3 linked regions of the Homo sapiens genome follow. The protein of the gene in region 1 interacts with the protein of each later gene in a biochemical or structural test. Each region holds a gene or a part of one and is shown in the gene's direction. Other genes may lie near its edges. The genes, in order: MAP3K11, SH3RF1 and MAPK8IP3.

Region 1 (3,630 bases):
CGACATCCAACCTGCTGCTGCACTCCAGGCAGGAGGGGAAAGGCAGAGGGACAAGGCCAGGGAGGGCTTCAGAGGACCAGCCAAGGAGGCCAGACTTTCTCCTAGTGACAGTGGAGAGCCACAGCAGTTTCTAGAGCCAAGGAGGGATCTGACAAAATCAGGGCTTGTGAGAGCCCATCCTAGAGTCCCTTGTCCTTAATGAGGGGTTCCCCATCCCTGCCCAAGTGGTCTAGAATGGAGTCAGGCCAACCCTAGACTGGAAGGTAGGACACTAGTGTCTTGAAATCTAGGGCAGAGTCTGGCTGGGAAATGGTGGAGAGCAAAGGTTCTACTGCCCTTGCCTGGGGTGAGGCCGGCTCCACCTTTCACTGGCTGTACAGCTCCGCACAAGCCCTCAACCTCTCTGAGCCTGGAACCCCTGGGGCATGAGAATCAGACAACATAATGCCCCTATGCCATTCAGCTCAGGCCTGGCACAAATACATACTCTGTAAATTAGCTGTGACCTTGGGCAAGGTACTGACCCCTCTGAACCTCATTTTCCTCCTTTCTAGAATAGAGACAGGGATTTATGCCCTCAGGGCTGCCATGTACCTTAGAGTTGACTGTGTGCATCTTATAAGCTACAGCTGGAGCGGGGGTGGGTGGGCAGAAGGGGCAGGGCTGCCAAGCCAGGAAGCTGGTGGGCACAGAGCACAGGGCGCCGGTCCCAGTCAGTGGGACCTGCCATGCCCCTGGGCCTGGAGGTTGCCCCTGGCAGGCCACAGAGGCCCACTGTGACCTGGCCCCAGCCTGCCTCCACTGGGACTGCCCATCCATCTTTCGGGTCTGGGGTCGCTGGCTGCCATTGGGCTTTGCTGCCGCTTCCTCCACCTGCACTGCCCTCCCCTCCCAGTGCCCATCTTGTGAAAGGCCAGAATGTGGGTATGTGATGGGGAGGCCATGGGACCTGTGGGACCAGGGAAGATGCTAGTAGAGGGCAGAACTCAGTCCTTGTTCCAAGACCACGGAGAGGTCTTGGGCCCTCACCCGGAATATGCACCAGCCACACCCTCACCTGTGCCGCCTCTGCCCGCAGGTAACCCCCCGCGGCCTAGCCTGGAGCCCGAGGAGCCCAAGAGGCCTGTCCCCGCAGAGCGCGGTAGCAGCTCTGGGACGCCCAAGCTGATCCAGCGGGCGCTGCTGCGCGGCACCGCCCTGCTCGCCTCGCTGGGCCTTGGCCGCGACCTGCAGCCGCCGGGAGGCCCAGGACGCGAGCGCGGGGAGTCCCCGACAACACCCCCCACGCCAACGCCCGCGCCCTGCCCGACCGAGCCGCCCCCTTCCCCGCTCATCTGCTTCTCGCTCAAGACGCCCGACTCCCCGCCCACTCCTGCACCCCTGTTGCTGGACCTGGGTATCCCTGTGGGCCAGCGGTCAGCCAAGAGCCCCCGACGTGAGGAGGAGCCCCGCGGTGAGTGGCCTGAAGCCGGCCTGCTTCACATATGGGAGACGGGGGTTCCCAGGGAGGGAGGAGTGGCTGGTGGGGACATGCAAGGAGGCAAGGCCGAGACCACAGTCATCAGCTGGACCCTGAACCAGGCATTCGGGGTACTGAAGACGCATGTAGGGAGCAGAGTTCTAAGTTCAGCTATCAGGTGGTCCAGGCAGGTGGGGGCGATGCCTGCTGTGAAATAAAAGAAGTAATCGGGCCAGGCAGTGGTGCACGCCTGTGATCCCAGCACTCTGGGAGGATCACGTGAGCCTTGAAAGGTTGAGGCTGCAGTGAGCGGTGATCATGACACTGGACTCCAGCCTGGGCGACACAGCATACATGTAATCATAATCGTAGCAAACTCCTGGCTCCTTACTTGTGCCAAGTACTGTTTGCAAGGCTTTCCCGAGATGGTCTCATTTAGTCATAACAACCAGAGAACTAAGCGCTCCTGGATGCCCATTTTTAGATGAGGAAATTTAAGGCACAGAGATTAAGGGACCCACAGCTCCCACAGCTAGTAAGTGGCAGGGCCGGGATCCACATCCAGGCCAGCCTGCTGCAGAGGCCTCACTCCTAACTATTACAAAAAACAGAGGCACCACGGAGCAGGAAGGGCGGTGGAAGTTGAGTCAAGTAGGTCACTGTGCACATGGGGAAACTGAGGCCCAGAGCAGGACAGTGTCTTGGGGACCTCAGCAGTTGGGGGTTGCTTGACCCTGTGCCCCTCCTATATCCTCACAGGAGGCACTGTCTCACCCCCACCGGGGACATCACGCTCTGCTCCTGGCACCCCAGGCACCCCACGTTCACCACCCCTGGGCCTCATCAGCCGACCTCGGCCCTCGCCCCTTCGCAGCCGCATTGATCCCTGGAGCTTTGTGTCAGCTGGGCCACGGCCTTCTCCCCTGCCATCACCACAGCCTGCACCCCGCCGAGCACCCTGGACCTTGTTCCCGGACTCAGACCCCTTCTGGGACTCCCCACCTGCCAACCCCTTCCAGGGGGGCCCCCAGGACTGCAGGGCACAGACCAAAGACATGGGTGCCCAGGCCCCGTGGGTGCCGGAAGCGGGGCCTTGAGTGGGCCAGGCCACTCCCCCGAGCTCCAGCTGCCTTAGGAGGAGTCACAGCATACACTGGAACAGGAGCTGGGTCAGCCTCTGCAGCTGCCTCAGTTTCCCCAGGGACCCCACCCCCCTTTGGGGGTCAGGAACACTACACTGCACAGGAAGCCTTCACACTGGAAGGGGGACCTGCGCCCCCACATCTGAAACCTGTAGGTCCCCCCAGCTCACCTGCCCTACTGGGGCCCAACACTGTACCCAGCTGGTTGGGAGGACCAGAGCCTGTCTCAGGGAATTGCCTGCTGGGGTGATGCAGGGAGGAGGGGAGGTGCAGGGAAGAGGGGCCGGCCTCAGCTGTCACCAGCACTTTTGACCAAGTCCTGCTACTGCGGCCCCTGCCCTAGGGCTTAGAGCATGGACCTCCTGCCCTGGGGGTCATCTGGGGCCAGGGCTCTCTGGATGCCTTCCTGCTGCCCCAGCCAGGGTTGGAGTCTTAGCCTCGGGATCCAGTGAAGCCAGAAGCCAAATAAACTCAAAAGCTGTCTCCCCACATGTAGCCTGTCACCTTTCTTGGAGGTAACCAGGTGACCCAACCTATCATACAACCCTGGTGTCCTGATGCCCCAACAATAGGCAGTTGGATGCCTTGTACTGCATGCCTCTCCTGGGACCAAATCCACCAGCCTTGGTCAGTCATTCAAGGCTCTTCTCGGCCAGGTGCAGTGGCTCACTCCTGTCATCACAGCAGTTTGGGAGGCCGAGGCCGGCGGATCACATGAGGTCAGGAGTTCAACCTGGCCACATGGTGAAACCCCATCTCTACTAAAAATACAAAAATTAGCCAGGTGTGGTGGTGCATGCCTGTAGTCCCAGCTACTCTGGAGGCTGAGGCAGGAGAATTGCTTGAACCTGGAAGGTGGAGGTTGCAGTGAGCCAAAATCACGCCACTGCACTCCAGCCTGGGCAACAGAGCAAGACTCCGTCTCAAAAAAAAAAAAAACAAAAAACCATAGGCCGGGCATGGTGGCTCACGCCTGTAATCCCAGCACTTTGGGAGGCCGAGACGGACAGATCACAAGGTCAGGATTTT
Region 2 (3,647 bases), on another chromosome or scaffold:
AAATGACAGTCAACCAGGCCCGCAATGCTGTGAGGACAGGTAAGGAGGAACCCAGGCCAGAACATATCAGGATAAAGGGCTTACCTGCCTAATAGTAGATCTTTTATGACAGATGTTGAGAAATGTAGATGTAATTTTAATAATGAACAACATTAGGCAAAGTCTACTCAGTGGCACCTTGTATCTGCTTATTTGGGCTAAGCGTGCCCTGCGTATTACTTCAAGCCTGATGGATAGATCTAAAGTCTGAAAGAAATTAGGCTGATCCTAAGAATGTCAATAGTACTTGAAATTTTGACTTCTATAGTTGAGATCATATGATCTCAAATCTCACTACTACCATCCATGTGACATTGCGTGATACTCTACTAACGGGTGTGCTGATCATTTCTGATTAACTTAAGCACAAGTCTACCTTGGACCCTATGGGATCTTAAACAGCTTTCTTAGTTCTGTAGCACTGAAAACCTTCCCAAGAGTCTTGGGTAACTAATGGGATGAGGGGTAAACTAAAGGCTTGTGAACTCTATCAGAAAAACAGAAAAAAGGAAAATGATTCATAAGAAAAGGGAATGAATAATAGGAAAAGGACTAGAGGGAGACATCGCTTGACACTGTAGAATACCATCAAGAACTGGCTCAGTGTCTCTAACACTGTGGAGAGGCTGTCTCCTAAGTAAAGGGACTTGGGTCAAAACTGAGCTTCCAGGCACTCAGTAGACTCAAGGGCTGACCTGGAAGGACAATAGATAGTGTCTGGGGATCCAGCTAAGATTAAGTGCTTTTAGGCCACCGTCCATCCCATCTTTATTGTAATAAATACAATAGCAGCCTTTCATCATGGTCTGATGCAGTGAAATGACTCATGTTTTGGTGAGCAGCATCTATTAGATAGTTGAATTTTGCTGTGTTCCCTCTTCCCATCTACTAGTTGCAGCGCACAACCAGGAACGCCCCACGGCAGCAGTGACACCCATCCAGGTACAGAATGCCGCCGGCCTCAGCCCTGCATCTGTGGGCCTGTCCCATCACTCGCTGGCCTCCCCACAACCTGCGCCTCTGATGCCAGGCTCAGCCACGCACACTGCTGCCATCAGTATCAGTCGAGCCAGTGCCCCTCTGGCCTGTGCAGCAGCTGCTCCACTGACTTCCCCAAGCATCACCAGTGCTTCTCTGGAGGCTGAGCCCAGTGGCCGGATAGTGACCGTTCTCCCTGGACTCCCCACATCTCCTGACAGTGCTTCATCAGCTTGTGGGAACAGTTCAGCAACCAAACCAGACAAGGATAGCAAAGTAAGACCATACTTACTTACTGTTTCTCTGCTTTACTTACTTCCCTGTTTTTCTTCTTATGTTGTGTCTGTCATTTTTAGCTAATGAGAGGACTCACTGTTCAACAAACCCTCAGGTGCTCCCTACGTGTGAGTCACTATGCCAGGTGCTAGGAGTAGAGTGGGGAAGAAACGCAGGCACCACCCCATCCTCTTATCTAGAGCTCATGTTTCTCTGTGTTTAAACGCCCACTACTTGCCAGACTCAGTGCTGCATGTTAGAGGGACCACAGTGAATGAGACTTAGTCACTCCTCCTTGTGCAGCTTACAGTCTCGTGGAGGAATTTCCTTTTCCCTTTAGTTACTCATTCTTTCATCATTTTGCTGTCCTCAAGTCTTCCTGCTCAGTGAGTCTTGCTTGATAAGAGTTCTGTTAAAAATATATATGTGTGAGGGGGATGAAACTGTTGATCAAAAGTGTTACTTATGGATTTATTTTATCTACAACAGTGGTCCCCAACCTTCTGGGCACCTGGGCACCATGGACCAGTTTCGTTGAAGACAGATTTTCCATGGACCCAGGGGTGGTGGCGGGGAAATGGTTTCAGAATGATTCAAGCTCATTACATTAACTGTGCACTTTATTTCTATTATTATTACAGTGTACTATATAATGAAATCATTATAGAACTCACCATAATGTAGAATTAGTGGGAGCCCTGAGTTTGTTTTCTTGCAACTAGATGGTCCCACCTGGGCATGATGGCAGACAGTGACAGATCCTCAGGCATTAGATTCTCATAAGGAGTGTGCAACCTACATCCCTCGCATGTGCAGTTCACAATAGGGTTCATGCTCCTATGAGAATCTAATGCCCCTGCTGATCTGACAGGAGGCGGAGCTCAGGCAGTAATGCAAGTGATGGGGAGCGGCTGTAAATACAGATGAAGCCTCACTCACTCACCTGCAGCTCACCTCCTGCTGTGCGGCCTGGTTCCTCACAGGCCACAGGCTAGTACTGGTCCATGGCCCAGTACATCTGACCTTAAGCAGCATGGTTCCTTGAGAGGTAAGACTTGAAATATAAGGAAACATTATTTTCTAAATCCATAGTTTTTGGGGTTTTTTTTAATGTCTCATTTGGGGCTGAATTTTAAAGAAAATATAAATGGAAAGTTATATTGGAAAGAATAACCGATGGTTGGGTTTAGAGACAGGTGATTGGAGGCAAGAGAAATTGAGAGTTGTTAAATGTAAAAAGAAAAAGAAGAGATGGTAACGGATCTGGATAATTTTATTGTCATTATTACTTTTTCCTCAATATTTTACACATTTCCCCTGAAGTTCTATACCAGTTCTGGGAAGTTTGAGGGCGATCATAGACTTTTAGCCACCTGGTTAAGTGGTAATGTATGTCGTTCTATTTAAATGGTTAAGGGAGCCTGTAAACAGCAGTTTATAAGGAAATAAACTTTATGGCCTACTAAAAAGTTAATATTTAATTGTTCGGTTAACATGAGAGTTTTTGAAAAAGATTGATATTTGTTCAGTGTTTATAATTAACTACATTAAACTTGCACTCAAGCCAACATGTTCAACTTTGTTAATATATTTATAAATAATTATTTTTATGGTTTAGATTTTAAGGCTTGATGACAATGTGTCTCAGAGCCCTTGCCACTGATAAGAACAGGGACTCTTCAGCTGGGCCCTTCCAATGTAGAATTCACTAAATCTCTAAGGCTTGAAAGGTACTTGTGATAGACAGAATAGTGACTCCCCAAGGATGTCCACCTCCTGATCCCTGGAACTTTTAAAGATGTTTCATTACATGGCCAAAAGGACCTTGCAGGTTTTATTAAATTAATAGCCTTTTGACAAGGTGGTTAGCCTGAATTATCCAGGTGGGCCCAGTGTAAACTCAAGGATGTTCTTAAAAGGGAGGCAGGAAGCTTAGGGCCAGAGAAGGAGACGTGATGGTGAAGCAGAGGTAGGAATGATAGGGAAATGAGACCACAGGTCAAGGAATACAGGAAGCCTCTAGAATCTGGAAAAGACAAGGGAACAGATTCTTCCCCAGTGGCCTCCAGAAGGAACCAGCCCTGCCACACCTTGATTTTAGGACCCGATTTTTACCACAAAGTTTGAGTTAACCTGTTACGGCACCATCTAGTACAGGTCCTTACTGGTCATCCTGTGGAGCACCCATCCCTGACAAATGACCATGGCTTCTGCCTAGGTGCGTGCCCCATTGACCAAGCAGTGCCCTAGCCCAAGACTGCCCTGTGCCATCTTCAGACAGCTGTAACTCAACTCAACCTTCCAACCGTTGTTCTTTATTTTGAGGGCCCACATAGAAAATGCAGATCTCCTTT
Region 3 (3,647 bases), on another chromosome or scaffold:
CATTCACAGGCAGAGCGGCCACCATTCACCATTCACAGGCGGGGCGGCCACCATTCACCATTCACAGGCGGGGCGGCCACCATTCACCATTCACAGGCGGGGCGGCCACCATTCACCATTCCCAGGCGGGGCGGCCACTGTTCCCACACATTCACACGCCGGGTGACCACTGTTCATACGCATTCACACGTGGGGCAGCCATCATTCCCACACATTCACACGCTGGGCGGCCACCATTCACCATTCACCATTCACACACAGTATATCCTACTATTCACACTCGGGGCATGGGGATGCGGGGTGCCTCCCGGGGACTCACCGGCGCTTCTGTCTCTGTACAGAATCAGTATATCCCACAATTCACATGCAGGGCTGGGGTGGGCACGGGCAGGGGGCCCAGGCGGGCTCCTGGGGACTCGCCGGCTGTTCTGGGCTGACAGCTCTCCCACCCCTCCTGGGTGACACCTGACCCCAGCGGCATCATCTGCCACCCCACTCCTGAGACCACATGGAGTCAGAATCAGGCCCTTGGGCAGGACCACAGCCCTGGCAGGATGCCGGGTCCCCTGTCAGCACCCAAGTCCTGGTGCATGCCTTTTGTATGGTTCCCCTCCCCGCTTGCCGACACCCCTCCACACCGCTTCTTGCCTGAGGATCTGAAGGAAATTGGCACTGAGATCCACCTATACGTGTAGGCACCCCAGGAGGAAGCAGGTGTCACCCGGCCTCCGAGGGCTGGCTGAGCCTCTGTGCCCCTCCCTCCGCAGGACAAAATCCCCATGGCCCAGCGCCGCCGCTTCACGCGGGTGGAGATGGCCCGTGTGCTCATGGAGCGGAACCAGTACAAGGAGCGGCTGATGGAGCTGCAGGAGGCTGTGCGGTGGACTGAGATGATCAGGTGGGAGTTGCGGCCACCCCAGGAGGGGCTGCGGGATCATCCCTGACGGCAGGACTGCGGCTCCCTCCTCTGCACCTCCCTGTCTTCTGGGGGGACTGAAGTGCGCTGGGTGCTTCCTGGCGGGAGCCAGAGAGTCGCAGGTAAGGGAGGCGTGAGGGCACTAGCAGGTTGCTCCCTGTGCCCTCCCCTGCAGAGCGTCCCGAGAGCACCCATCCGTCCAGGAGAAGAAGAAGTCGACCATCTGGCAGTTGTAAGCTGGGGGCCCCTGGGGGATGTGGGCAGCAGCTGCAGGGGAAGGGGCAGGGAGGTTCCCTGGTCCTCTGCCCACCCCTCACCTCCCTGTGCCTCTGGCAGCTTCAGCCGCCTCTTCAGCTCTTCCTCCAGCCCCCCTCCGGCCAAGCGCCCCTATCCCTCGGTGAACATCCACTACAAGTCACCCACCACTGCCGGCTTCAGCCAGCGCCGCAACCATGCCATGTGCCCGATCTCGGCAGGCAGCCGGCCCCTGGAATTCTTCCCTGACGAGTGAGTGTCCCGCAGCCCCCACTTGTGGCCTGCAATGGGGTTGGGGAGGCCCTGTCCTGAGGCTCCTCCCCTCCAGGCCCTGAAGCGGGACTTTGAGGGCAGCCTCCACCTTGCTGGCCACATGCCAGGGGCCGTGACCTCTCCCTGCACACTGCCTGCCCCTCCCTGCAGCGGGGAGCTGGGCTGCTTTGGCTCCACGGTATTTGGTTCAGGATGTCCCTTGGCAGAGGCTGTGCCCACCAACAGTCAGGGGGCTGTGCTGGGCTCCACGGTGGCCTCTGCAGCAAGGAGCCGTTTCAGGCGTCTGTCCAGCAGGGAGTCGCTGGTCATGCCTGTGCCCCGGCGGCACTCCAGGTCCCGGTCTGTGGAACCCTCAGTGACTGTGGCAGCAGAGCAGCCTCTGGGTCGAGCAGGGGCCAGCTGTGGCCTCCAAGCCCAGGGGCATAGCCGGTGCCAGGAAAGCCACCCTTCCCAGCTGGGCACCCAGTGCCGGGAAAGCCACCCTTCCCAGCTGGGCACCCGGTGGCCGGGAAAAGGCGAGGATGGGCCCAGGCGGGCCTCCCTGCCGTGACCTCCCCCAGGACAAGCCTGGGGCACTGTGGGGGCCGCTCACCCTGGACAGAGACATCACCCATCATTCTTCCACTCAGCGACTGCACGTCCTCCGCCCGTCGAGAGCAGAAGCGCGAGCAGTACCGCCAGGTGCGTGAGCACGTGCGTAACGACGACGGCCGTCTGCAGGCCTGCGGCTGGAGCCTGCCCGCCAAGTACAAGCAGGTGCGGGCGGGCGCTGCGGGGACCGGGCGGGGCCCCGCAGAGGCGGGGCGGGGGTAAGGGGCGGGGCGCTGTGGGGCGGGGAGAGGGCGGGGCAGTGCTAGGGGGTGGGAGAGGACGGCGGGTGGGGCGGGGCCTGGCAGGTTCCTAGTGAGCCTCCTGGGCAGGGGTCTGGAGGGTCGGAGAAGGAGCCCCGCGGCTCCCACGCCCCCACCTGCCTCCAGTCTTGAAGTGGCTGTGCCGCCAGAAGCTGGCAGCCCTACCTGTCTCAGATTTCTGGAGGGATGGGTAGGAGCCAGGGTTCGTGCCCACGGCGCCTCCCTGCTCCCTGCAGCTGAGTCCCAACGGGGGCCAGGAGGACACGCGGATGAAGAACGTGCCGGTGCCGGTGTACTGCCGCCCTCTGGTGGAGAAGGACCCCACCATGAAGGTGAGCCCGCGAGGACCCCGCTCAGGCTGGCTGGGCGAGCGGGAGGCTGGGGAGTGCCGGTGACACCCGACCTCGGCCCTGCCCTTGCAGCTGTGGTGTGCCGCGGGCGTCAACCTGAGCGGGTGGAGGCCCAATGAGGACGACGCTGGGAATGGAGTCAAGCCAGCGCCAGGCCGCGATCCCCTGACCTGCGACCGCGAAGGAGACGGCGAGCCCAAGAGCGCCCACACGTCTCCCGAGAAGAAGAAGGTGAGCATGGCCGAGGCCACCGGGCACCCTCCCTGGCTTAGTCTCAGGACAGCTCAGCTGCAGAGCATGCTGGGAGTGAGACACAGGACAGCTGGGGACAGCACCCGGAAGCAGGGCAGCGCAGGGGCTCCTAGACTGCGGGAAGCAGTGTCTTCCCTCACCAGGACTGAGCCGCCTTCTGGGTTTTCAGTTTTCACCCCCCAGGTGGCCTGGAGTGGGCCTGCACTGGGCTGCAGGGGTCAGGCAGGCAGCAGGCACAGAGGAGCCCAGGAGCGGCAGAGCTTGCCTCCCAGTGGTGGGAGGCTTAGTTTTATGCCCAGCTTGGGCCTCTTGGAGCTCAGGGGCCTCTTCTGTGGAGGCGAAACCGTGTCTGTGAGTGCTTTAGAGTGCAGTCCTGAGTCCGCATTGTTCTGGTCCTGGGGGAGGACAGCCATGTCCCCTCAAGCTGTAGTCAAGGCTGGATCCTGACAGATTCTGGGAGCCCCATGGCCCTGTGCTGCCACCGGGTAGCCTCAAGCTCGGGCTCTGACCTTGATCCCGTGCCCTGAAACAGGCCAAGGAGCTCCCTGAAATGGACGCCACCTCCAGCCGGGTGTGGATCCTGACCAGCACCCTGACCACCAGCAAGGTGGTGATCATCGACGCCAACCAGCCGGGCACGGTGGTGGACCAGTTCACCGTCTGCAACGCGCACGTGCTGTGCATCTCCAGCATCCCCGGTGAGCAGCTGGAGTGGGCGTTTCCACTCGGGCGCCACTCCCTTTTACTAGC

The links.
Region 2: the proteins of MAP3K11 (region 1) and SH3RF1 form a complex in vitro, tested with the Homo sapiens proteins (one study listed by BioGRID).
Region 3: the proteins of MAP3K11 (region 1) and MAPK8IP3 form a complex in vitro, tested with the Homo sapiens proteins (one study listed by BioGRID).

Annotation. Positions count from the first base shown.
Region 1 is NC_000011.10:65,597,217-65,600,846, reverse strand, and holds the end of MAP3K11 (mitogen-activated protein kinase kinase kinase 11), read left to right. Parts: intron 1-1,078; coding exon 1,079-1,453; intron 1,454-2,218; coding exon 2,219-2,556; 3' UTR 2,557-3,090; downstream 3,091-3,630. UniProt on the Homo sapiens protein: Activates the JUN N-terminal pathway. Required for serum-stimulated cell proliferation and for mitogen and cytokine activation of MAPK14 (p38), MAPK3 (ERK) and MAPK8 (JNK1) through phosphorylation and activation of MAP2K4/MKK4 and MAP2K7/MKK7.
Region 2 is NC_000004.12:169,113,915-169,117,561, reverse strand, and holds part of SH3RF1 (E3 ubiquitin-protein ligase SH3RF1), read left to right. Parts: coding exon 1-39; intron 40-931; coding exon 932-1,293; intron 1,294-3,647. UniProt on the Homo sapiens protein: Has E3 ubiquitin-protein ligase activity. In the absence of an external substrate, it can catalyze self-ubiquitination. Stimulates ubiquitination of potassium channel KCNJ1, enhancing it's dynamin-dependent and clathrin-independent endocytosis.
Region 3 is NC_000016.10:1,761,584-1,765,230, forward strand, and holds part of MAPK8IP3 (C-Jun-amino-terminal kinase-interacting protein 3), read left to right. Parts: intron 1-767; coding exon 768-898; intron 899-1,091; coding exon 1,092-1,148; intron 1,149-1,252; coding exon 1,253-1,423; intron 1,424-2,073; coding exon 2,074-2,200; intron 2,201-2,531; coding exon 2,532-2,627; intron 2,628-2,717; coding exon 2,718-2,876; intron 2,877-3,429; coding exon 3,430-3,595; intron 3,596-3,647.